Regions from separate parts of the Homo sapiens genome. Here all the other regions are reported to be linked to region 3. The links are microRNA targets in miRTarBase. Many come from high-throughput screens and were not tested one by one. Region 3 holds a microRNA gene; each other region holds the end of a gene's coding sequence. Distances are from middle to middle.
The links. Region 3 holds the annotated microRNA hsa-miR-2682-3p (CGCCUCUUCAGCGCUGUCUUCC, at 1,319-1,340, opposite strand). A microRNA usually pairs through its seed, bases 2 to 8, with sites in the 3' UTR of a target mRNA and lowers its output. Matches are read on the target gene's strand: a 7mer-m8 pairs with bases 2 to 8, a 7mer-A1 pairs with bases 2 to 7 and ends in A, and an 8mer does both.

Region 1 (4,000 bases), not on the chromosome of region 3:
ATGTTGTAAAGGAATTGATACGGATGGATGGATGTGTGTGTAAAAATGATCAGCCAGGTGAGGTGGCTCATGCCTGTAATCCCAGCACTTTGGTAGGCGGAGGTGGGTGGATCACCTGAGGTCAGGAGATCGAGACCATCCTGGCCAACATGGTGAAACCCCGTCTCTAATAAAATACAAAAAAAAAATTAGCTGAGCATGATGGCATGCACCTGTAGTCCCAGCTACTCAGGAGGCTGAGGTGGGAGAATCACTTGAACCCAGGAGGCGGGGGGTGCAGTGAGCCGAGATCGCACCACTGCACTCCAGCCTGGGTGACAGAGCAAGATTCCGTCTCAAAAATAAATGTTCTAGACTGTGGCATCCCCAGGAAAAAGGATTCCAGGAATCCTGAACTTTCTGTGTTATCTATTTCCACCATGTTTTGATGTGTGCAATGAACATGTGTCTCTTTGTAATTAGGGACATCAAAGACGTCAGACTGGATGGCGAGTCCCAGTGAGGCGATGTGGGCAGAGGAGCTCCGAGCCGCCCACCCAAGGTGGCTTCACATCCACACAGGCACTTCCCATCCACCTAGGTTTGGCTTAGCAGAAACTTCTTTTCATTCTTCCAAAGCATCGATGGTCTTCGCGTCTCCTCAGGAGGTCTCCCAGGAGGAATTCTTGGATGGTGTCCTCATGTCGGCGGAGAACAGTGCTCAGAGCTGGCGCTTGCAGACGCAGCTGTCGTGGGGCAGGGCGGTGGCGCCTTCCTGACCTTTGGAAGACATGACAAAGCTGCCTGGACACGGACGCCCCTGCTGTACGGCCACAGCACCCCTGGGTTTGCAGAGCACGCAGCCTTCCTAGGGCTTTCCACCTGGCGAGGCCCCGCTCTGCTCAGCACGGTGCAAAGTGAATGCTGCTGTCTTGGAGCCTGGGCACGTTTGGGGAAGTTCCTGCTTCAAACTGAGCTGCCCCGCATAGGCCAGGTCAACCCACACCAATCTCTTCTGGACAGGTGCTGGGTAGGCCTTCCTGGTCTCTGGCCGCCTGCTGCCAGGGTGTGGCCATCCCCAGCAACCGGAGCTGGCCAAACCAGAGGCCTCGCTCCGCACTCCACACTTTCCTTTCTGTGCTCCTTCCAAGTTAAATTAAACCCCCTCTCCACGATTCCCACGGCAGGCGTCATTCCCGAGATGGGAGCCAGTCCAGGGGTCAGCAGGAGCCAGCGCTGGGCACACGTGCCCTGGCTGAGGCCAGCGGCATCCTGGGTGGCCCAGGTCCATCCTGGGCAGCAAAGGCGTGTCCCCTTCTGTCAGACAGCTTCACAGAGTGTGGCTTCACCAGTCAGAGGGAGCAGTCCGGAGAGGCAAGATGACCCCACCGGGACTGCAGAGCCTCCTCCTTACTAACAAGGACCTGTCCGCAGCCGCGAGGTCCTTCACTCCCACCCTGTAATTGTGGGGGGAGTGCCAGCAACAGGCCTGTCCCCTGGCAAGTTGGCCACGGAACCCACCATGCACTGCAAGGCTGTGACAGCCTGGGCACCCCTGCTTCTCCTCTGCTTGTACGGTTCCCCCAATAAATCCTATTTTCCATCTCACCGTGTGGAGCTGGTACTTGTTCACATCCCTCTTGCAGCAACAGTTGGCCGCCGTGAAACCACACTCCGTCACATCTCCATGCCAGTGCCCAGGGGGAGACCCCTCCCCATGCCTGGGCTGTTACAGTCACCTGGCCCAGACGTAACCTGGACCAAGAGTGGACGGAGACACCTGGGGTTGGGGCCTCTGGAAGGGCTGCTGGGGGGCCAGCTGCAGCCTGTGGCCTCTCCCAGGCCCGGATATGGCAGGACATTTGCGTCGTGTTGCTGGAAGAGGCAGGATGCTCTGTTCTCGCCATTAGCCTGCGTTACGCCTAGACTCATCTGCATAAGCCTGGGCAAGTGGCACCCCTGGGCCAAGGGCAGACTTGCCCACCCGTCCATCCTTTGCCTATGGCAGAGGACACACAACACAGTGGCTGCGCTTTGGGCACTGTTCTCGGCCCTGAAGCATCCTGCCCCGAGGCTGACCTAACTGCCCCCAGCTGGACTCATGGCCAAGGCTACAGACCCAGTACTCCAATCCCGACTCCCACTGTGTGGTCCAAATGTGTACGCCCACAGGAGGCAGCCATGCCCGAGGAAGGTACTTGCTGAAAGATGGTCCAGTTCATGCCGCCACCAGCTGGACCTCTGATCAGGCCCCCTGCAGAAGGGGAAGCTCTCCACATGCCCAAGATACGAGAGAAACGCCCGGGTCACAGCAGCCTGAGTCACTGCAGCCTCTGCTACCTGCCAAGCCTGCGCCCTCCACCTGTGGGCTCCTTGCCTCTGTGATGGGGCCTCCACGGCCAGCATCTTCCCGCCATGGTCACATGATGCCATGCCCTGCTCTGGGCACCCCTAAGCGGGTATGAGGCGAATCAGAGGAAGAATATCGGCTTCTCTTCCCTTTTGGATATTTGCGTCATTGACCGGGACTGGCCCACTCTTCCTCTGCCTCACGCCTGCTTTGACCTTAGAAGACAGACGGCAGCTCGCGTTGCTGGGCTGAGATTCTCCAATGGACGTGAATTTAGATGATGCTGTTGCCTTGGGTGGCTTCATGGCCACCAACCCGCACCCTGGTGGCCACTCAGCCATGACAAGGGCCTGACAGCCACTAAGTGAGCTTCAGAGCCTTCCCCTTGCAAAGTTCCAGGGCCACCAGATGTCGCCTGCCCAGTCACTGTCACAGAGTTAAAGCGTGCGGGTGAACGCTGGCCGCGGAGCGTGCAGCCCGGCAGCAGCTCAGCGGGGCAGCTCCTGCTTCCAGCCCTGCCTCTGCTGGTGCTTCGCCCACAAACCCTGCTGTATGACATTTGCACCACATGGTGTGTGTCCGTGCCCTTTGACATGACAGTGCCAACAACATCTCATGAAATTTAAAATAAATCCCCAAGGCATCAGAAACGTATCAACTAAGAACTCTAAGTTTGAAAATGGGGGTGGGGCAGTGGCCAGTTCCGGGAGCCCCTGGCCCCCCGGGACCTGACCCACAGTCATAAGGTGGGCCCCATTCCCCAGTGGTCCCAGCCTAGCCTCCTGTCCCACCTCCTCTGCCAAGACAGAGTGGCACAGGACCCCTGTCGCTCAGGCCAGCAGGTGTGTCTCTGAGCTGGCCGTGGGCACTGACCGCCCTCCCAGGTCCCCTCCAGTGCCAGCTCTTCTGGCTTCCCCTCCCAGCCCCCTTCGTGAGCGCCTTGATCCAGCCCAACCTTGGAGTGGGGGTTGGTGATTTGGGGGCTGGACCTCAGCCCTCTTCTGCTCTGCCACTTTTGGGGTTCACGGTTTGTCAGCCCTCCCTTCTGCAAATGAGACCTGGACGTCATGTCCAGCTGCCTCCTGGGCCCTGCCCGGCATCTCCCATAAGCACCATGCAGCACAGGTGGCAGAGGGGATTGTCCTCCATCCTCTTGTCTGAGGGAGGAGACCACAAATGAGTGAGACAGTCATCCTCGCTGCCCTGCCTGTCCTGTGTCCCATCAGTCATCAGGGCCTGCCACCTGCCTTTGTCTTTTATTTATTTATTTATTTTTTAAGATGGAGTCTCGCTGTGTCGCCCAGGCTGGAACGCGATGGCGTGATCTCAGCTCACTGCAACCTCCACCTCCCTGGTTCAAGCGATTCACCTGCCTCAGCCTCCCGAGTAGCTGGGACTACAGGCGCACGCCACCATGTCCAGCTAATTTTTGTATTCTTAGTAGAGACCGGGTTTCACTGTGTCGGCCAGGATGGTCTTGATCTATTGACCTCGTAATCCACCCGCCTTGGCCTCCCAAAGTGCTGGGATAACAGGTGTGAGCCATAGAGCCCGGACCATCAATGGCTTTTAGTAAGTTCCTAGGGTTGTGCATCCATCACAACTATCTCATTCCAGAACATTATCATCACCCTGAAAGGCAGCCGCTTCCCCATTAGCATTTCCTCTCCT
Region 2 (4,000 bases), 55 Mb from region 3:
ACGCCAAACCAGAGAGGGCCTGGCTGAATCCCAAGCTCCCAACACCCCCAGCCCTTTGCGGCTGTGGGCTCAGGTCATGCTCCCTCTTTGCACTTGGGGTCAGGCATGCAAACCACAGTGGGAAGAAATTCCTCCAAGGAATCAAGGCCTTGAAGGACAGGGTCCAAGGTTCTTGTGACTACAGGGCCCTCCTCAGCCAGGCTTGCCACCCACAGCTGGTTCTGAGGGGAAGCCCCAGCTCGGGCACCCTGTGGGGCACAGGCTCAGCAAAATCAACTGCGAGTCTGGGATCAGGCCCTTACCTTCTTCTCCTGGGTCCATCAGAGGTTCTGACTGAGGCCCCAAAGAGTACAGGAGAACAGGGACAGCCAAGCATAGAACTGCACGCAGGGCAGCTCCTCTGTGGTGGGAATTGAAGGAGCCCAGGGGCAGGGGGCAGGCTCAGCTGCCTGGGCAGCAGCTTTTCCTGGTAGGCCAGGACATGCCCCTTAGGTCAGCCTCTGGGGTCCTCCTCCAGGGTCTCAGGCTGGGGCAGCCTCTGCTCTCCCCAGGCCTGTGAGGGGCAGACCATCTCTGGACTCAGGAACCATGGCCAGGTTGGGGGTCATGTGAGCTGGGCTTCCCTCCTCTCTGCTTCCTCCAACTCCCCTGCCAGGGCTTGGTCCGCTGACAGTCTTGAGATGTGTTTCCCGCTCCGCTCCTCTCTGGCGATCTCATCCATTCCTGCTCTCAATGACCCTGGTGCCAAGTGTTCCCAAGCCCGTGTCTGCAGACTAGACTTCTCCCTGTGAACCCAGCAGCCCCGAGGCATCTCCCCTGGAAATCCTGTATCCAACATTGAATCCCCATTGCCCCAACCTGCTCTTCGTCAATGTACCCAGTAACCAAGCCAGAAGCCAGGGTGCGTTTTTCTGATACCTACCTACTCCCCATATCCAAAGTCAACAGGTCCTATCAGCTCTTCCTCCCTCTTGTCTCAAAGTCTGTTCCTATGTCACACCTTAGACAGGTCTTATTACCTTCTCTCGGTGTCTCCCCTCCAATCCATCTCTGCACAGCAGCCAGAATGACTTTTCTATCATGATTATGTCATGCCCTTGCACAAAAAAAGTCCACAGATGAGCTTCCATTGCTCTCAGGTTGAAGTGTGAGCTTGGCATCCAAGGCCCTAACAGATCCACTCTTGGGCTTCCTCACTGCCATGGGCACCCCTCAGATACGACACTCAAGTCCTCTTCAATCTCCTGCCTCTTTCCCAAGCACCTCACTACATTTGCCAATGCCTCACTTTCCTTCTGTACCAGCTCATTCCTCAAAGGCTGACACTGTACTTGGGGAACACATGGGGGTGGCTGCCTGGCTCATGAGAACTGCCCCTTGTCTGAGAATGATCTGGAACAAACAGATGGGCTCCCCAAACCATGCCCCCCACTCATAGCAGATTGTGCTTTAAGCCTATGTATACTTGACCCAAACTGGGCCAAATTGATTCTCTTTTCTGAGCACTTGAAACTTGGAACTGAGAGTTTGGAAGTCCTGGTTATAGAGAGTCCCATCAGTGCCCCTAAACGACAGGATGCTAGGGGTGAAATGCCTGACCTCTGGCTGCTGGGACCGCCTGCTTCCTGCTGTCCCTTTGATTCTATGCAACAGCCAGGACTCTCCCCCAAACTCCTTTCTATTGCTTGCAATTAAAAACAGCTTAACTCAAGTCTTTTCCATCTTAAAACTAGCTCCCTTGTGCAAGAATCTGAGGATACACAATAAGACACAATCTGGGGCCTCAGGGAGCTCCCAGTTTAGCTATGGGGGCAGGCATAGTAAGAGGCAAGTACGAACCGTCATAAAGATTAAAATAAGCCTGTAAATCCCAGCACTTTGGGAGGCAGAGGTGGGAGGATCACTAAAGTCTAGGAGTTCGAGACAAGCCTGGGTGATACAGTGAGACCCCATCTCTACAAAAAATAATTAGCCATGCGCAGTGGCACATGCATGTATTCCCAGCTACTTGGGAGGCTGAGATGGGAGGATCACTTAAGCACAGGAGATCGAGGCTAAAGTGAGCTGTGATAGCCCCACCATACTGCAGCTTGGGTGACAGAGAGAGACCCTGTGTCAAAAAAAAAAAAAAAAAAAAAAAAAAAAGATGGCCAGGTGTGGTGGCTCACACCTGTAATCCTAGCACTTTGGGAGGCTGAGGAGGGTGGATCACCTGAGGTCAGCAGTTTGAGACCAGCCTGGCCAGTATGGCAAAACCCCATCTCTACTAAAAATACAAAAATTAGCTGGGTGTGGTGGTGGTGGGTGCCTGTAATCCCAGCTGCTCAGGAGGCTGAGGTAGGAGAATTGTTTGAACCCGGGAGGCGGAGTTTGCAGTGAGCTGAGATTGCGCCATTGCACTCCAGCCTGGGCAACAAGAGCAAGACTCCGCCTGAAAACAAACAAAAAGATGAAAACAAAATGTGGGCAGGACAGTACTAGAGAAGGGCTCATGGAAGGTGTCTTGGAGGGGGGAGCATCTGAGCAGTGTCTTCTAGCTCTGAGTGATAAAGCCCAGCTCAAGAAAAATAAAAATGAGTGACAGCTTTTTATTTTTATTCAAAATGAAAATAGATTTATTAATTCCTGTGAAAAACATATTATAACCGGATTACCCACTTTATTTATAGGAAAATATTTCATTAAGAAGCTGGCCGGGCATGGTGGCTCACGCCTGTAATCCCAGCACTTTGGGAGGCCGAGGAAGGCGGACTACCTGAGGTCAAGAGTTCGAGACCATCCTGGCCAATATGGCGAAACCTCGTCTCTACTAAAAATATAAAAATTAGCTGGGCGTGGTGGCGGATGCCTGTAATCCCAGCTACTCAGGAGGCTGAAGCAGGAGAATCGCTTGAACCCAGGAGGCGGAGGTTGCAGTGAGCCAAGATGTGCCATTGCACTCCAGCCTGGGCAACAGAGTGAGACTCCGTCTCAGGAAAAAAAAAAAAAGGAAGCTTGGCACTGGTTTTCACCTGCACAAATGTTACCATCTGGGCATATTTGAAATGCTGGCAGGTAGGCAGGCCATCACAGTCATAGAGGATTTAGGAGAAGAGTAGCGTAGGCAGGGGGACCAATGTGAGCAAAGGTGCCTGGGGAAACTGCATGGGAAGTGGTGGGAGGGAGAATAACATTGATTTCGACAGTAAAGTAGGGGAAGGCAAGAAAAGAAACCAAGAGGCCGAGAGGCATGATCACAGAGGGCCTTATGTCCACACTCAAGCCTTTGTTTGGCTTTATCCTGAGAACAGCAGGGAACAGTTGAGAGTTATTGAGCAAGAGAGGGTCATTGTCACTTTGCTGGCTAGTGTCAGGGAAGTGGGGTTTACTCCATCCCTGGCCAACCTTTAAGCCCCAGCCACCTCTGTCCCTGAGGTTCAAGGCCCCCATGTCATAACCACTGTCCTTAAGCTGTCAGGCATGGAGGGAGTGGGGAGGGTCTAAAGATGGGAGCTCAGAGGGAGAAGTGGTCCCTGCTACCCTCTGTCCCCAGCTCGCCAGTCCCAGGCTGAATGTAATTGTCCTCGATGAAGCCATCATCATCCTCATCTTCAGCCACCTGTGGGCGGCCTCCCCTTCCTGTCTCAGGCAGTGGGCGGTGCCGGTAGCTGGCATGGTATCGGCGGCAGAGGTGGCATTTGGCAGCAAGTGCAATGAGGAGCGAGAGGACCACAGCCCCCAGCACAAATCCTACCAGCACAGGCCATGCCCGAGCCCCAGTGCCTGGGCCAGGGGCCACAGCAGACGCTGTGGGGAGCTCCGAAGGCCCAACAAGTGCTGCAGAGAAAGGGACAGCATTATAGGTGGGCCCCAGAGGGGGCTCCCTGGAGAAACCAAGAGCAGTGCAGGTAGGGTCCTTCCCCCAACCCCAGCATCTAAGGGGAAGCCCCCCACCCCCATCATCCTCCCACTGTCACTCACTTTTGTTTGTCTCATTCATGGAGGGGCCTGATGACACCAG
Region 3 (4,148 bases):
CAACTTTCCAGAGACCACCTAGGAACTAGAGTATGTAGCTTCTACTTTTCTAATTTCCCAAGGAAACAATGCCACCAGTAGACATATTGCATTTTGTTAAATACATAACAAGCATAATATTTAAAAGCCCTAAATCACCAACTGGTAGATCCCTAGAGAAAAAAGGTAATTCATGGAATAATGAAGGAAAGAACAGGAGTTACATATTCTCTTGCTGGTGATAGAATGTCGAATGCAAAGACAGCATCTGTGTTTTCTTTCCTACTTCAACTCATTCTTAAAATGGACTCGCCCCCGGGAGCTTCTGAGAAGGGCTCCACCCGTTCCCTGCAGACGACAATGTTCTTTGAGCGCAAAAGCTGTGAGTATAGATACCCTGGGAGTAATTGTGGGATCAGACACAATGGGGTGGGATTAGGGGTAGGCAGAGGGTGTGTGTGGAGTACCCTTCACTGGGAATCCTAAATATTAGAAGAAAGGCGAAACCCTAGGTGGGGAAGCATGAGAGTGTGCCTGCTTCCTTCAAGACACCTCGGTGTCAGCCTCTCCAGGGTTCAGACTGCTCTTGTGGGCAAGAGCCCAGTGGGGCACACGCACTTCGTGCCTGAGAAAGGCCCATCCTCCAGGGGGAGAAGGTATCTGAGATGTAGCTCAGCTTAGAGCGGTCCCAGAGCGACAAGAGGGAGAGCTTCACAGGCCTCTAAGTTTATTTGATTTTTCTCCTGCAGTTTCCATTTCTCAGGAATTCAGTCTTCGTGCGTAGCCCGTGCACAACCAACGACCACCACGCAGGGAGGAAACCTGGTCTTAGTGTTTGGCCGCGCTAGTGGAATCTTCTGGGCGCCTGGTACGTTCTTGTCCCCAGCACTCTGTCCTTCCACCTTTGAAGCGCCTTGATAGGACGGTCCCAGATGCCTCACAAGAAGGAAAGGCAAGGTGCAAAGCTGGCAAAGCTGTGTGGTCCGACGCTGGCGAGAGCTGAGACCTGGAGCCCCAGCCCACGCCTTCCACTCTGGGTCATCCTTCCCAGCTTCATCTTGGGCATGCCAACTCCTGCCACGTCCGATTGTCCCCAGGAGTGCCCAGGCATGCTTGAGGGGTGTGGTGGCGGTGGCTTCCTCTTCGCTAGGAGGTGACAAATCCGTGTTGTTTTATCGTCCATTAATATTTGAAACAAACAAACAAACAAACAAACAAAAACTCTAAGTAGAAGGAGGGAGAGGCTCTCTCTTGCTCCCACGCCTTCGCAGCTGACCTGAGAGGGGGGACGTGCCTTGCGTTTGTTGGTGTTTGAGACTCGTCCTAAAGGCAGAGGCAGGGAAGACAGCGCTGAAGAGGCGTCCCAAAGAGATTGGACGTCTGAACAGTCACTGCCTGCCCCAACCTCTTTCAGGAAGGTTCCAGGTCTGTGCCACACTGCAACCAATCCGGTTCCCATCCTGTTTCTCCACCCCTTCTCGGAGAATCCGAAAAGAAAATATGCGTTCCTGAGAGACCCGCCACACTTCCGATCTGGAAGTTCCGCGGGGACCCAGCCCCCGGGCCCCCGCCCCCTCCCCATCTCGGCCGCCAAGTCTGGTTGCGGAGCAGCGCGGCCGGCCGGGGGTGGGGCTCCGGCACCGCCCCGGGCTCGGGATTCGCGAAGTCACGCGCTTCCGCAGGCTTGCGGGGGCACCTTCGCCCACGGACACGCCCTTTCTGCGGAGGCAGCCCCCAGCGACCCTCTGCCCAGCTTCGGCGCCTCACTCGCGACGCTCCCAAACTGCTCAAGGCCTTTCAGTCGTTCCCAACTTTAGAAAATCGCCCCGTCCGCGTCTCTCCCTCCAGCCGCACCCCACCGTGGAGAGGAGAGGAGCGGACTGGGAACGCCGAACCGCCCCGCAGGCTCGGGGAAACGGACCCCCTTCCGCTCCCCGCCCATCCCCTTCACCTCGCCCCCCGCCCCCTGCGCGAACCCATTTTCCAGTCCTGGTCACCAGAGGCGCAGCGCACAGCCTTTCCGGTGGAACCAGTGCGAAAACACCCGAGGAAATGAAAAGAACAAGAAAGTGCTACCTTGGCAACCACGGGCGTTTAGTGGCCAGCTGGTGGGCTGGGGAGGGCGGCCGCTGCCCCCCTGCCGCTGGTACTCTCCTCGACTACGCGTATTCTTAAGCAATAACAACGTAATCCGTATTATCCACCCAAGAATACCCGTCACCGAAGAGAGTCAGAGGACCAAGCTGCCGCTGCCGCTGCTACCGCTGCCGCTGCTACCGCTGCCGCTGCTACTGCCGCCGCCGCCGCCACCAGAACTCTTGCTGCTCGCTGAGCCCGCCCCTGCCTGGGGATGGGCTGAGCTTGACCGGGACCATAAATCCATAACTCGATTTCCCTAAAGAAGGATCCAAAGCTGTGCTCGGCTGCTTCCTGCCCAAATCCAAATGGCCGCTCTATTTCCAATTCTGAAAGACAAATCACAAAATCAAATACTTAACACAGAAGAGTGCTGTCTTTCCAGTGAGGAGGGAAGATGTGGCAAGGCTTTTTGGGCACAAGTGGGAGTGACAAGTAACCTTCAGTTTACCTGGTGCTCTCCCAGTGCTTTCCTCTGCACTTCTCTGCTTGGTACCCAGTCTGGTCTCGGCCAGTCCACTCTAGGTGGTATGATTGAGTGCCATGGCGGCCAGAGAACCCTGTAAGAGACGTGAATAGTTACCCACACAAATACAAATATATTTGCCTAGACGGCTTTGGGAAGAAGTGAGGCTTAAATAAAGATAGGTCATGCATGGGTGAAATTTTCAGTAGTGTGTTTTGGAAATGCACTTTTCTCAAGCCCAAGATCATGGAAAATAAACACTCATTCAATTTACTACTTGAAATCAAATACTTATAGATGTACAAAAATAGGCGTCTTTCCTTTGAAGGCCTTATAGCTATACAACATAATGATTTTTAAAGAAAAAAAAAAGCTTGAAGGCACACAGTAATTAAACCCATTTTCCATAGTGTCAAAACTCACTGAGTTGACAAGCTGGTAGACTTTCTATGATTTAAGCATCATTTTATATCACTACAATGTTTAATTTCATAGCACACTTTTAAAATATATACTATAAATGCATTGCTGTACAGCTGTTGTGGACACCTCTACAGAAAAACCTTTGAAGCTCTGTGTTCATAAATATTATTTTAAGAAGAAAAAGCCAATAAAAACTCATTTGCAAAGTGACTGTAATTTTGGCATTCAGAGAGAGAATCTCTGTGATTCTTTGATGATCAATATGGCTCTTACTGGAAAAGCTTTGTCTTAAGATCCTGCAGTGGATATTCTGATAATGGGGGTTTATTGTTCACTAAATAAAATGGACAAGTGCAACGTCACTACCCAAGACATGGTGTAGCTTCCTTAGAAAGTTCTCAATTTGCTTTCCCCTTTACTCTCAAATACATGAAAGTACATCCATGTAAGGGGAATGGGGGGGAATATGGAAACATGGCAATAGACATTATGATTTCCCAAATTATGTAAGTGCAAATAGCTCTTCATCAAGGAGTAATTATATAACAGAATCTCTCCCACTACCACAACTCATCTCTAACTGACCTGGTTGCAATTTAAGGTGCTTAGGTTGTGTTTGCTCTTATTTTTTTAAAAATTATAATACTTCTCCGGGCACACCAACTCATCATTTTCTTGACATGTTACTTACAGATGGAAAAATCAACATGAATTCTAGGTTTTATGAATAGATGTTTAATATATAATGTCTGAACCTAAAATAACTAGAAAGAAAACCAATATAGCCCAACTACCAGACTGTTTTACATTATTTTCAGATAACTCTTAAGTACACCACTTACAAAAGGACAGATACCAATAAAACAAATAAATAAGCACTATTTTCTGTTGTTACCTAACATAGGTATAAAGTGGAGCTTTTCTCTGGTGCTAGACAAAAAAAAAATTCAGAAAGCTGACAGGTTCTCTTCAGCTTGAACTCCTAGAAACAAAAGCCCTTAGGGAAAGTAATGCAATAGTCTATGAGCAAAGTGTACATTTGCTTCTGCACTCTTCTATTTAAATCTCAACTAATATTAAAAGGAAAACAAGAAACACACTATACAGATAGGCTTGGATTTAGTAAATGGAACGTTATAAACTC

Region 1: miRTarBase lists FLYWCH1 as a target of hsa-miR-2682-3p. Seed matches in the 3' UTR shown: 7mer-A1 at 1,350-1,356 and 8mer at 1,859-1,866.
Region 2: the mRNA of C1orf210 is a reported target of hsa-miR-2682-3p. The part of its 3' UTR that is shown has no 7-base or 8-base seed match.

Annotation. Positions count from the first base shown.
Region 1 is chr16:2,948,226-2,952,225 of GRCh38, forward strand. It overlaps FLYWCH1 (FLYWCH-type zinc finger 1), which reads left to right. Exons shown (of 10, transcript NM_001308068.2): 10 at 463-2,983. The coding sequence ends at 502. The region is part of intron 2 of FLYWCH1-AS1 (FLYWCH1 antisense RNA 1); the gene reads right to left. Among named protein-coding and RNA genes, the nearest start is that of FLYWCH1-AS1, 5.9 kb to the right of the region's middle.
Region 2 is chr1:43,279,292-43,283,291 of GRCh38, forward strand. C1orf210 (chromosome 1 open reading frame 210) reads right to left here. Exons shown (of 3, transcript NM_182517.3): 2 at 3,961-4,000; 3 at 2,586-3,816. The coding sequence starts at 3,979. The coding sequence ends at 3,494. Among named protein-coding and RNA genes, the nearest start is that of C1orf210, 4.3 kb to the right of the region's middle.
Region 3 is chr1:98,043,953-98,048,100 of GRCh38, forward strand. It overlaps MIR2682 (microRNA 2682), which reads right to left and starts at 1,399; the gene lies at 1,290-1,399. LOC124904228 reads right to left here and starts at 1,551. Exons shown (of 1, transcript XM_047437906.1): 1 at 1-1,551. The coding sequence starts at 1,438. The coding sequence ends at 917. MIR137HG (MIR137 host gene) reads right to left here. Exons shown (of 5, transcript NR_046105.1): 2 at 2,567-2,675; 3 at 2,056-2,444. MIR137 (microRNA 137) reads right to left here and starts at 2,219; the gene lies at 2,118-2,219.